Linked DNA regions of Homo sapiens: region 2 is linked to region 1. The links come from fine-mapping of genetic effects on gene expression. A gene starts in region 1. The other region holds a variant in brackets. All regions are shown on one strand. Distances are from middle to middle.

What was found. PIP is the estimated chance that this variant, and not a neighbour inherited with it, causes the effect. A credible set is the group of variants that fine-mapping cannot tell apart.
Region 2: its variant is the best candidate, but not a certain one, in a credible set for the expression of RASA2 in whole blood (INTERVAL, PIP 0.72).

What each region holds. Positions count from the first base shown.
Region 1 is chr3:141,484,883-141,490,260 of GRCh38, forward strand. RASA2 (RAS p21 protein activator 2) reads left to right here and starts at 2,145. Exons shown (of 24, transcript NM_006506.5): 1 at 2,145-2,334. The coding sequence starts at 2,202. RefSeq lists a silencer at 2,054-2,933.
Region 2 is chr3:141,547,393-141,552,770 of GRCh38, forward strand. The region is part of intron 5 of RASA2 (RAS p21 protein activator 2); the gene reads left to right. Among named protein-coding and RNA genes, the nearest start is that of RASA2-IT1, 25 kb to the left of the region's middle. The variant T/C (reference allele first, on the strand shown) is at 2,565.

The DNA of each region.
Region 1 (5,378 bases):
TAAGTGGTATGTAGGAGGAATGAGAGGGATGGGGGACTTATTACCAGAGTTCCAGTCAAAAGCATGAGGTCAGTTACTGAGGTAATCCTACTACGTGCTCAGCATTCCACTAGACACTTAACACCCTGCTCCCAATACTTATTTAATCTTAATAACAACCCTTCAAAGAAGAAAGTTTAGCATTTCCACTTTACTGTTAAAGAAACAGGTTCAACCGGGCGCAGTGGCTTACACCCAGCACTTTGGGAGGCTGACGCGGATGGATCACTTGAGCCCAGAAGTTCAAGACCAGCCTGGGCAACATGGCAAAACCCCATCTCTACCAAAAATACAAAAATTAACTGGACATGGTGGCGCGCACCTGTAGTCCCAGCTACTTAGGAGGCTGACATGGGAGGATAGCTTGAGCCCAGGAAGTTGAAGCTGCAGTGAGCTGAGATCGTGCCACTGCACTCCAGCCTAGGCAACAGAGCAAGACTGTCAAAAAAAAAAAGAAAGAAAGAAAGAGAAGAAACAGAAACAGGTTTAGGAAGGTTGAGTAACTTGCCCAAATGTAAAAGGGGTAGAAACAGGCTCTATGTCTGATTCTAAAAAGGGATGCCTTTAAAAATAAGGGGGAAAAAACCCTGTAACACGTTGATACTCTTTAAATGAGAATAATTTTAACAAGGGCAATGACAGAGAATGGAAAGGAAGGAAGAGATTTCAGCAGAGTCAGAAGGATGTGGCAACTGAAAACAGCATTGGGACAAGGGATAAGAAAAAGTCAAAGTTTCTGGCCTGAGTAACAGTATAAGATGTGAACTCAGATTTGGAAAGGGAGACAGGAAATTAAGTTTTGGACTTATGTTTGAAATGACAGCAAAACATTCATATAAGAGGAAGTGGTTCACTTTATCCAACAAGTGTAAAGATCACATGGGGAAATAGAAGTCACCTGCAACACAGGCAGAACTGGAAGCTTCGCTGGCCAGGTCCATGTTAAACTCTGACCATTCTCTGGGGCTGTCCAGCCTTTGCACAGGCGGCGCGTTTGTCTTCAGTTTTCAGGTTTCCCCGTCCTATTTCTTATCTCCCAGTGCCTCTGGCCTTTTCTGTGTCTCCCTCCAGAATGAGCTGGAGCTCTCTTCATCTTGACCTTTGTGTAGTCTCTGAGGTCTGAGGCCATCACTATGTCTGACCCTCAAAAAATATTTGTTGACTGACTGGCTTATTCCTGTTGTTGCCCTGGAAAAGAATTACCCTGCCCGATTAAGTCACAGTTTCTTCCTTCTTAGGGCAGCGTAGTTAACAACCTCAACACCAGGAAATTGTCTTCCTCATCACATACCAGGGTATTATTCATGCAGTTTACTCACTGTAAAGAGTTCCCTTGAAATAAAGCTAACAATTAGTCAAAGATTTACACATTTCCTAGGGTCAGTCAACTTTTTAACAAAGCCAACTTTTAGTAGTGGTGGCGGTGGCGGGGGGGAGCCCTTCTTTGCTTTTTCTGTTCCTGAAATACAAAAGTGATGGTAAATGCTTCAGAATTTCTCTATGAGAGGGTCTCAGGCACTGCACTCACGCTGGAGTTGGGGGTGGCTGGTCCTTTTCTTGAACCAGGTTTTGCAGAGAATTGGTCCTAGTAAAGAGTATTTGTGTGGGAGGAGTTTGGCTTGCTGGCGGGGAGTATTTGGATAATACTGGAAGAGCCTCAAATGCATCTCTTGCCTCCTTTTGAATAAGATACTTTTGAGGTCCACCCACCTGCCAAATTCCATTCTATTTTCTTCCCACAGGGAGTTTCCCTGATTGGGAAGGGCCTGTATTTCCCGCGAGCGTTAGGAGATGTGCAGGTCTATTCATTGGGGGAGCCCAATTCCCGGGAGGATTTAGGGATCACGGGAGGGCCGGGGCGTTCTCCTGGTGGGGATTTTAAGGCCGCTCAGAGCCACGACTGGGAGCTACCCTTAGCCAGCGCCCCAAGCCGGGAGTACGGTTCTCTGCAGGGTAGCCCGGCTCGGGGGTGGCGAAGGCGGTGAATGGAGACCCGGGGGGGGCGGGGGCGGGGCCGCGGCGGGCGGGGCGGGGCGGGGCGAGTCGGGCCGAGGCCCGGGGGCGGGGCCAGGCGCGCGGCTGGCCTGGGCCTAGGCCGCTGCTGGGCTCCGCCTCGCCCGGCTACGCAGGCGGCAGGGCTGCGGCACGGGCCGGGCGGCACCATGGCGGCGGCGGCGCCTGCTGCTGCGGCGGCTTCTTCCGAGGCGCCAGCGGCGAGTGCGACTGCAGAGCCCGAGGCCGGGGACCAGGACAGTCGCGAGGTTCGAGTGTTGCAGAGCCTGCGGGGCAAGATCTGTAAGCGGGGGCTGGGCTGAGGGGACGCCCTGGCGGCGCTGGGCGCGAGGCTGAGGGGGCGGCGGGTTCGCGGCGGTGGCGGCGCCGAGCTGCGCTGGGATCGCGGGCCCGGGAGGGGGCCTGGGCCGGGCGCGGTTGAGGCTGGAAGGGGGTGTGTTGGGGGGCGGCGTCGCCTCGACGGGGCGGCGTGGGCCGGGGCTGCTGCTCTCCGGAGGGAGTGGGAGCTGGAGATGGGCCTGGGGTGGGAGAGCCCGGGCTGCGCCGGCGTGAGGGGCTCGGTCGTGGGGAGCGGCCTGGACGCGGGGACGCTGGAGTCCGGGGCGCGGCCGGGGGCGCGGTCCGGGGGCGTGAGGAGCTTCCGGCCGCCCTCAGACTCAGGCCTTCGCGCGGCTGCGGGCGCTGGGGAGTGGCCCCGCGGTGGGAGCCGAGCAGTAATTATACGGAGGCGCGGCCCGAGGAGGTGGCGGGCTGGGAAGTGGGGCTGGCCCGAGGGGAGGGGGCTGTTCGTTTCCTGGGCTCGGCGAGCCTGGGAGAGGTTGAAAAAGGCGCCCTGAGCTGCAGGAAACGGGCCGCCCTGGGGCCCGAGTGGCTACCGCGCGGTCTGTTCGCGGGTGAGCGCCCCGGGAGGAGCTCGGCGGGACACCTGTACTTGCCCCACCTCGCTGCGGCCGGGACTTGAATCGAGGGACGGCGTGACAGGCGGGACTAAAGGCAGGATGTAGTGGCTTCCTGTGAGCAGGTCTCAAAACACAATCACCCAGCCCGCACTCAGCCCGCTTAATTCCCTTCCTTCTCATGCGTGTAATTGCTACTTTAGTGAGCGAGCCTACCAGTTGACTAAATACGAAATTTTGCTCAGAGTTGTCCGAGCATTACTGTGGACAGATTATTTGAGTTCTGTCATTTGAACATTTTAGTTTTAAAAACGACCCTTTGGTGTCAGGTTGCCATTTTTTTTTTCACAGTGGTTTATTTAGATGAAGTGCTTTTTGTTTTCTGTTTGTAAGAGAGATCAATAACATTTATTTTTGCATTTGTCGAAAATTAGCATTATTTTCTTCATGCAGTATTCTCAGATTGGAAACATGCTTCATGTTTCTTATAAATAACCCTCAATTATGAGGGCGTACTTTTCACTTTGAAGAAAATTGACTTGCATTAAAGTGGCTAACAATTCTTTCCTGGGCAGGATGTAAAATTTTCCTCTCCTCTAATACCAGTACTGTTGAGCTCACATTCTCCCACTTTTCCTCTTTTCAGGTGGTTCACGTATTTGGGATTTTATGAAACCTCAGAAGCAGACATGTTAACTTTTCTTATCTTTTTATTCCCTGAGGTAGTCCTGGGGCTCTTAAGAGATTACAGTTCTTAAAACCTGGAAAGTGACACCAGAGAGGTAGATCTTAGTTCCCAAAATTAAAGTTACTTTCTAGGGCATAAAACCTTTTCAGAATTCAGATTAAATTTTATTTATTTTTTCTTTTTTCTGTAACCTTATATTTGAGGGGAAAATTTTGTTTTCAACTTTTGCATATATCTAATTTAACATTTGGGAAAACTGTAAATGGGCCAAAGTTTCTCCCTTTATATGATTTTCCAGATTTTTACCACTTTCTTAGTGCCACTTGATGCTAGGCATTGTCTATTGGAGACTCACTGGTACGTAACTGCAGGTTTTACCATGGAACTACATATACACATGTCTTGGAATTGAGGGTTAGGGTTTCCAGAAGGACTTAGTTGTCCTGTGCTTTTGTCTGCCCCATGCCAAAGACCACTAAGAACAGTTTTGTAAGTGAAACTTGGGTCTACACGTTAAAAAAAAGAAAAACAAAAAACCACTTTGTTTCTATGGTTTAAAGCAACCCTGGCTTGGAAATTGATCATCCAGCTGCTGGGAATGATATTACTGCTTTAACCACAGTTGAAGTATTCTATCTGTTATCCTAGTCAGTTTCTTGCTTTTTAAATTGCTTATCTTATAGCTCAGGTTATGGAGTGTCTGCTTTCTAGAAAAAAAAAATGTATTTGTATACTTATATACAGAAGCTCTCTTCCCATTTCTTTGTCCTCCTTTTAAATGATGTAATCCACAGTTGGTTGACATTCAGAACCTTGTGAAGAGATGCTGTTTTCTGTTTCCCTGAAACTAACATGTGGGTTTTGTAGGGTGGGGACTGAGGGGTTGGAAGAGTCATTAGCAGGTGTCAAGGTCACAGAAATGAGATGGTGGTGGTTCTGACAAGATATTAAGCAGCTTGGGGAGGGTGTAACCGTGTCAGCTTTTCTCTTCACCACAGTAGGAAACCTTGGAAGAAAGCCTGATAGTGCCCACTAGGAGATGTGCTGGCAGATTTTATACTACTGATTGAGAGCCTCTTTTCTGGAGAGTTAGAGATCTGTAGGGGCTGAAAATTAGCCTGAAGAAATTTTCTTATTTCTGGACTTGCATAGGACTTTTAAACTGCACATCACCCCAGTGAAAAGTGAGGATGGATTGGTTTATGTATCTTGAATGTTCAAGAGATAATAGTCCATAACCTTCTTTAGGGATTTCATTCCTGTAATTATTTCCCCTTATACTTCACAAGGTGAAATATCTGTCAGTTGGACAGATATTTGTCTATTGGACAAGAGGAAACTTAACAAAAAGTGGTAACCAAAAAGGTGGAGGTCACAAAATAACAACATGAGACCTCAATATATATAAAGGATGAAGCCCCAATACCCCTTTTTTGCTTGAGTGTACTTTTTTTTTTTTTTTTGCCGGGGGGCTGGGGAGGAGGGAAGAAGGGACATGCAAATATGTTTCAGGTGTTTTATATGCGCTCAAACGAACCCAGGGAATTCGAGATCCATCTATAAGACAAAATATTGTCAGCAACCCTGGATTTGCTGCAGTTTGCGCTAGGAAACCATGACAGTTCTGAATTGTCTGCTTCCTTAAACTTTTTCAAGAGGTGAGTTTGGTTGTTTGATATCCTAAGGTTGTCATATGAACCCTTGATAAAGGAAATTAGGGGTGTACTCGACTCCATTCTTCG
Region 2 (5,378 bases), 63 kb after region 1:
TTTTCATTATAGATGTCTTTCACTTCTGTGGTTAATTCCTAGCTATTTTGTTTTATTTGTAGCTATTGTGTAAGCAGTATTACTTTCTTGATTTATTTTTCAAATTGTTCACTGTTGGCATACAGAAACCCCACTGATTTTTGTTGTGTTAATTTTGAATCCTGCCACTTTACTAAATTTGTTTATCAGTTCTAATAGTTTTTTGGTGGAGTCTTTAGGTTTTTTCCAAATAAGATCATATCATCTGTGAACAAGGATGATTTTACTTCTTTCTTTCCAGTTTGGATGCCTTTATTTCTATCTCTTGTCTGATTGCTCTAGCTAGGACTTGAATAACAGTGGTGAAAGTGGGCATCCTTGTCATGTTCCAGATCTTAGAGAAAAGACTTTCAGTTGTTCCCCATTCAGTATGATACTAGCTATGGATATGTACTATATGGCTTTTATTGTGTTGAGGTTTGATCCTTCTGTACCTATTTTTTGAGGGTTTTATTATTATGAAGGACTGTTGAATTTTGTCAAATACTTTTTGGCATCAGTTGAAATGATCATATGGTTCTTGCCCTTCATTCTGTTGATATGATGTGTCACACTGATTAATTTGCACATATTGAACCATCCTTGCATCCCTGAGACAAATCCCACTTGGTCATGATGAATGATCTTTTTAACGTGTTGTCGAATTGGGTTTGCTCATATTTTGTTGAAGATTTTTGCATCAAGGTTCATCAGGGATATTGGCCTATAGTTTTCTTTTTTTGATGTATCTCTCTCTGGTTTGGTATCAGGGTAACACTGGCCTCATAGGATGAATTTGGAAGTGTTCCCCTCTCTATTTTTTGGACTAGCTGAGTAGGATTGGTATTAGTTCTTCTTGAAATATTTGGTAGAATTCAGCAGTGAAGCCATCAGGTCCCAGGCTTTTCTTTGCTGCAAGACTTTTTACTGTGGCTTCAATTTCATTACTTGTTATTGGTCTCTTCAGGTTTTGGATTTTTTCATGGTTCAATCTTGGTAGGTTGTATATGTCCAGGAATTTATCCATTTCTTCTAGGTTTTTCCATTTATTCTTTTTTTCAAAGTTTCTTAAGCTTTTGCTCTCCATACTCACTGTCTTGTAGCAGCAGAGTTCCAGTGGTAGCTTTATGGAATTTATTGTTGATTTCTCATCCTTATAGATATTCTGAAATTCATGACATTCTCTGTTTTTTAGTATTGCTAAAGGCATGGTTTCACATATGGCTTTCTTTGTGCTTCTTGCTGGACTTTGGTTTTGGGGGAGTAATGTATGGGAAGATTCATATCCTAGTAGTTACTATTATCCTCCAGACCTAGAAAGTCCCCACTACAACATTTTTTGAACTTTAGTGAGACCTCCCTGCCATCCATTGATCTTCACTGTGTTCCTGTTTTCACTTCTTTCTACATCTTTTTCCGTGACCTATTGCTGTAGTCATTTTCTCGCAGGTTCCGTAAACTCCCCTATTGTTCTCATCATTCTTATTTATCTGGAAAAACTCTAATTGAAAATGACCTCTTCCTCTGTGTTCAATCTGCACATGAATATAGCTGGAGAAAATCATGTAGGCTGATTTCACTTTAAATTTATCATCACAGGCCTCACATGGGCACTTATATCTGCCCTGGAATTTAACTGTGCTTCTCTAATACAGCTATAAGATTCTCTACCACCACAGCCTGGAAATTGCTTACATCTTCCTGAATCCAAATCTATAAACCTAATTTGCATCCATAATTTTGTCCTTAGAGCAGAGGAGGTACTCCTTTTCTTGACATTGAATTCTTCCATCTGAGCTCTGGATTCCATTTATTTCCTCTACTTAATGAGTTTTGCTCCTTCAGTTATGCCTTCTTTTTCTTGTTTTGTCAGCTTTACCTTCTCTCCTACATGGTTCTCACCACAAATAAACATGGTCTAGTATCTCTGTCCTAAAAGGCATGCCTCCCCAGACCTCATCTCTGCCCACCCATACCCCAGTCCTTTTTATCATTCCCATTCCTCTGCTCTCCTTTGAAGGCAGACTTCTCTAGGGAAAAATAGTGGTAGGAGTGTGTATGAGTGTGTGTGTGCGTGTGTGTGTGTGTGTGTGTGTGTGTGTGTTTGCAATTCTCCAGTCAGCACTCTCCAGTAGATTTTTCTGTGATGTGGAAAATGCTTTGTATCTTCACTGTCCAAAACAGTAGCCACTAGCCATGTGTGGATATTGAAAACTTGAAATACAGCTAATGTGACCAAAGAGCTGAAGTTTAATTTTATTTAATTTTAATTAAATGTAAAAAACCACACATGGCTAATGACTACAGCATTAGTGCAGCTTCAGTAAAAGAACCTGGACTCCTTTTTAGCAGTAGCTTATTTCAGGACTTGGGCAGGGAAAATATGAGATGAGTCTGGAGCATCTTGGGGTCTCAAAAAGTAAGAAAGTGCTAAAAAATAATGGGGATATGTAAAAAGGACATTGAAGCCAATGTAAAGGGACTTCAAATTACCAAATCTGGAACAATTTGAGCTTCAGAATAAATAATAATAGTGGATTAAAACT[T/C]ATAGAATAAAATAAATATAAGCGAATACTGGTACAAATAAACAATTAAAAACTCAAATACTTGGTAGGGAGAAAGGACTGATTTTTCCTATAGTAGAATTCTAGTTAATGAATGTAGGAGGAATGATGGAAATGAAAATCAACATTGGCAAACATCACAATAATAAGTGGGTGAGGGGACAATTCAAAAAATCATCTATGGATGCTAAGTGAGCATAAGTGTGGTGACAAGATGTCTGATAGATGCCACCTTAATTGAGTGATCAAAGTTAACATCACCAATAATGAGACATCCAGTACTTCCCAATAGGATGCATTGAGAAGGACACCAAGATACATAACCTCAACCTAATCATGAGTAAACATCAGACAAACTCAGATTAAGGAATACACTACAAAATAACTGGCCAATACTGGCAAGATCACGGGGCAAAGAAGGAAAACTAATGAACTGTCTCAGGATGGAGAGGAATAAGAAGACATGACAACTAAATGCACTATGGGATCCTGTATTGTGTCCTAGATCAAAAAAGGACATTGGTGAAATTTGAGTAAGGGCTACAGATTTCAGTAATTCTGCTGTGGTTCTACAAAACGTTAACATTTGTTGATGAGTATACAGAAACTATTATTTTAACAGCTTTTTTGAATATCTGAAATTATTTCAAAATAAGGTTTTTAAAATTGCCTGTACCTTGTGCATTCAACCCAGGTCTGTTTTCTGAGTTTCAGATTAATATGTCTACTTTGATGAATCACATTGCAAACTTAACACATTTAAAACTGAAGTACAGGGAGGCTGAGGCAGGAGAATGGCGTAAAACCGGGAGGCGGAGCTTGCGGGGAGCCGAGATTGCGCCACTGCACTCCAGCCTGGGCGACAGAGTGAGACTCTGTCTCAAAAACTGAAGTACTGATTCTCATGTCTATCCAACTCCTCCCCCAAAGTCTTAGCAAATGTTTAATTCCGCTCAGTATGTTTTTCATCTCTAGATTTTTCCATTTTTATTGTCTTCTGTGTCTGGATGGATCATATGGAATATAATTATAACTTTTAAATGTCTTTGTCTGCTAGTTCTGTCTTCTTTGTCATTTCTGATTCTGTTTCTATTGATTTTTCTTTTCATTATGGATCATAATTTCTTAGTTCCTTGCATTCCTGGTTATTTTCTGTTGCATGCCAGACATTGTGAAGTTGCTGGATATTTTAATATTTCTATGAATGTACTTGAGCTTTGTTCGGCACTTGGTTAAGTTACTTAGAAACAGTTTGATCCTTTTGTGGTTTACTTTTAACTTTTGTTAAACAGACAAGCACAGTCTTTACTGGAGGGCTTATGTTTTCCTACTATTAAGGCAGTACCCATGAATTACCAGGTTTTCTACTGTGGCTGATGGTACCTCTTGCTAGCCATGTGTGGGTTTTAGGAACTATTGCCTCTATTCTTTTCAAATGGTTCTTTCCCCAGCCTCAGATGATTTCCTCATATATACACGTATCAATACTCAGCTGAATACTCAGTGGGGATTCTTGTAGCTCCCTGGAGGTTTTTCTTTCTCTGTGCAACTTTCTTCCCTTTAGTACTCTGCCCTGGGGTCCCTAGTCACTTTGACCTCCTCCTGCTGACAGCTTTGCCTCTTCTTCTCAGAGAAACCATTTAGCTGTAAGCTGGGGCAGTTGGAGGGCTCACCTGTCCTTCACTGCTGATTTTGTTCAATTCGTTTTGGGTGGAGAGTAAATCTAGTTCCTGTTACTCCATCTTACCTGGATGTAGAAGTTAAAATTTTCTTTTAGTTTAAAAAAAAATCCAAAGAAAAGAATCAGATCAGTCTTATTCTGAACTGTTTATAATATTTTCTTACCTTTGTAAATTTTAGATACTATATTGTAAATGCTTTATATGTCACATATAAATAAAATATCAAATTCCTTATTGAGGTTATTTTCAACATTTGTTTTCTGCCCATCCATGATTTATGATATGAAATTGCTTACTTACAGATTGGAAGAACAGTGCTATGCTAGGTAATTAGAAAAATAATATTTCCAAATATATGTAATGAATAACCTATATTTAATAATATTACTTAAGTTTTGCAGAAAACTCAATTTTTAACTGTTTTATATTTAAAAATTAAGAGTACTGATGATTTCTGTAGGGTGCACTTCTGGTTTATGGGCATCCGTGTTTTGGTTTGTGGGTATTCTTATCGTTTCATAAGTTTTTTATAAGTCAGTACTGCATTTTCCTCTGCTTTTTTTTATACCTCATAAAATAGAAAATTGGATTTCTGTCATTAAGGTTTCTCATAATTGGTGTTTATGTGAGATAAATGTGGTATTACAAGGACAGTAATATTGTATTTGGGGGCACAGTGGGAATGTAGAAGGGCACTGGACTTCAGTAACAAAATTAAAAAGTAGAAGTTGAGTCTTGGCCAGCTTCTTACAAGTTACGCTACCTCTTTGAGCCTTACCTTGTAACTTCCTCACATAACCTGTGAGCCTTACTTCTTTTAAATGGCATAATTCTCTTCTCAAAGGCAGTTGTGAGAATTAGGTGCATTTTGTGAAAGTGCATAGTAAACTGCAAATGCCGTGTCAGATATCATTTTGAGGTTTAGCCTGAGAAGGGTAAGTTTTAAGCAGTATGTACAGTGGGAAAATCTGACTGTACCTCAACCCAACATTAAAACCCAGAATTATCTTGGCTTGTGTTTTCTTTGGCTAGTTTCAAAATTTCTTTCTTTATTTTTTTATGCTCAGCTATAATAGAAATGAGTCGTATTATCATTTCTGTCTTTACTCTGCAG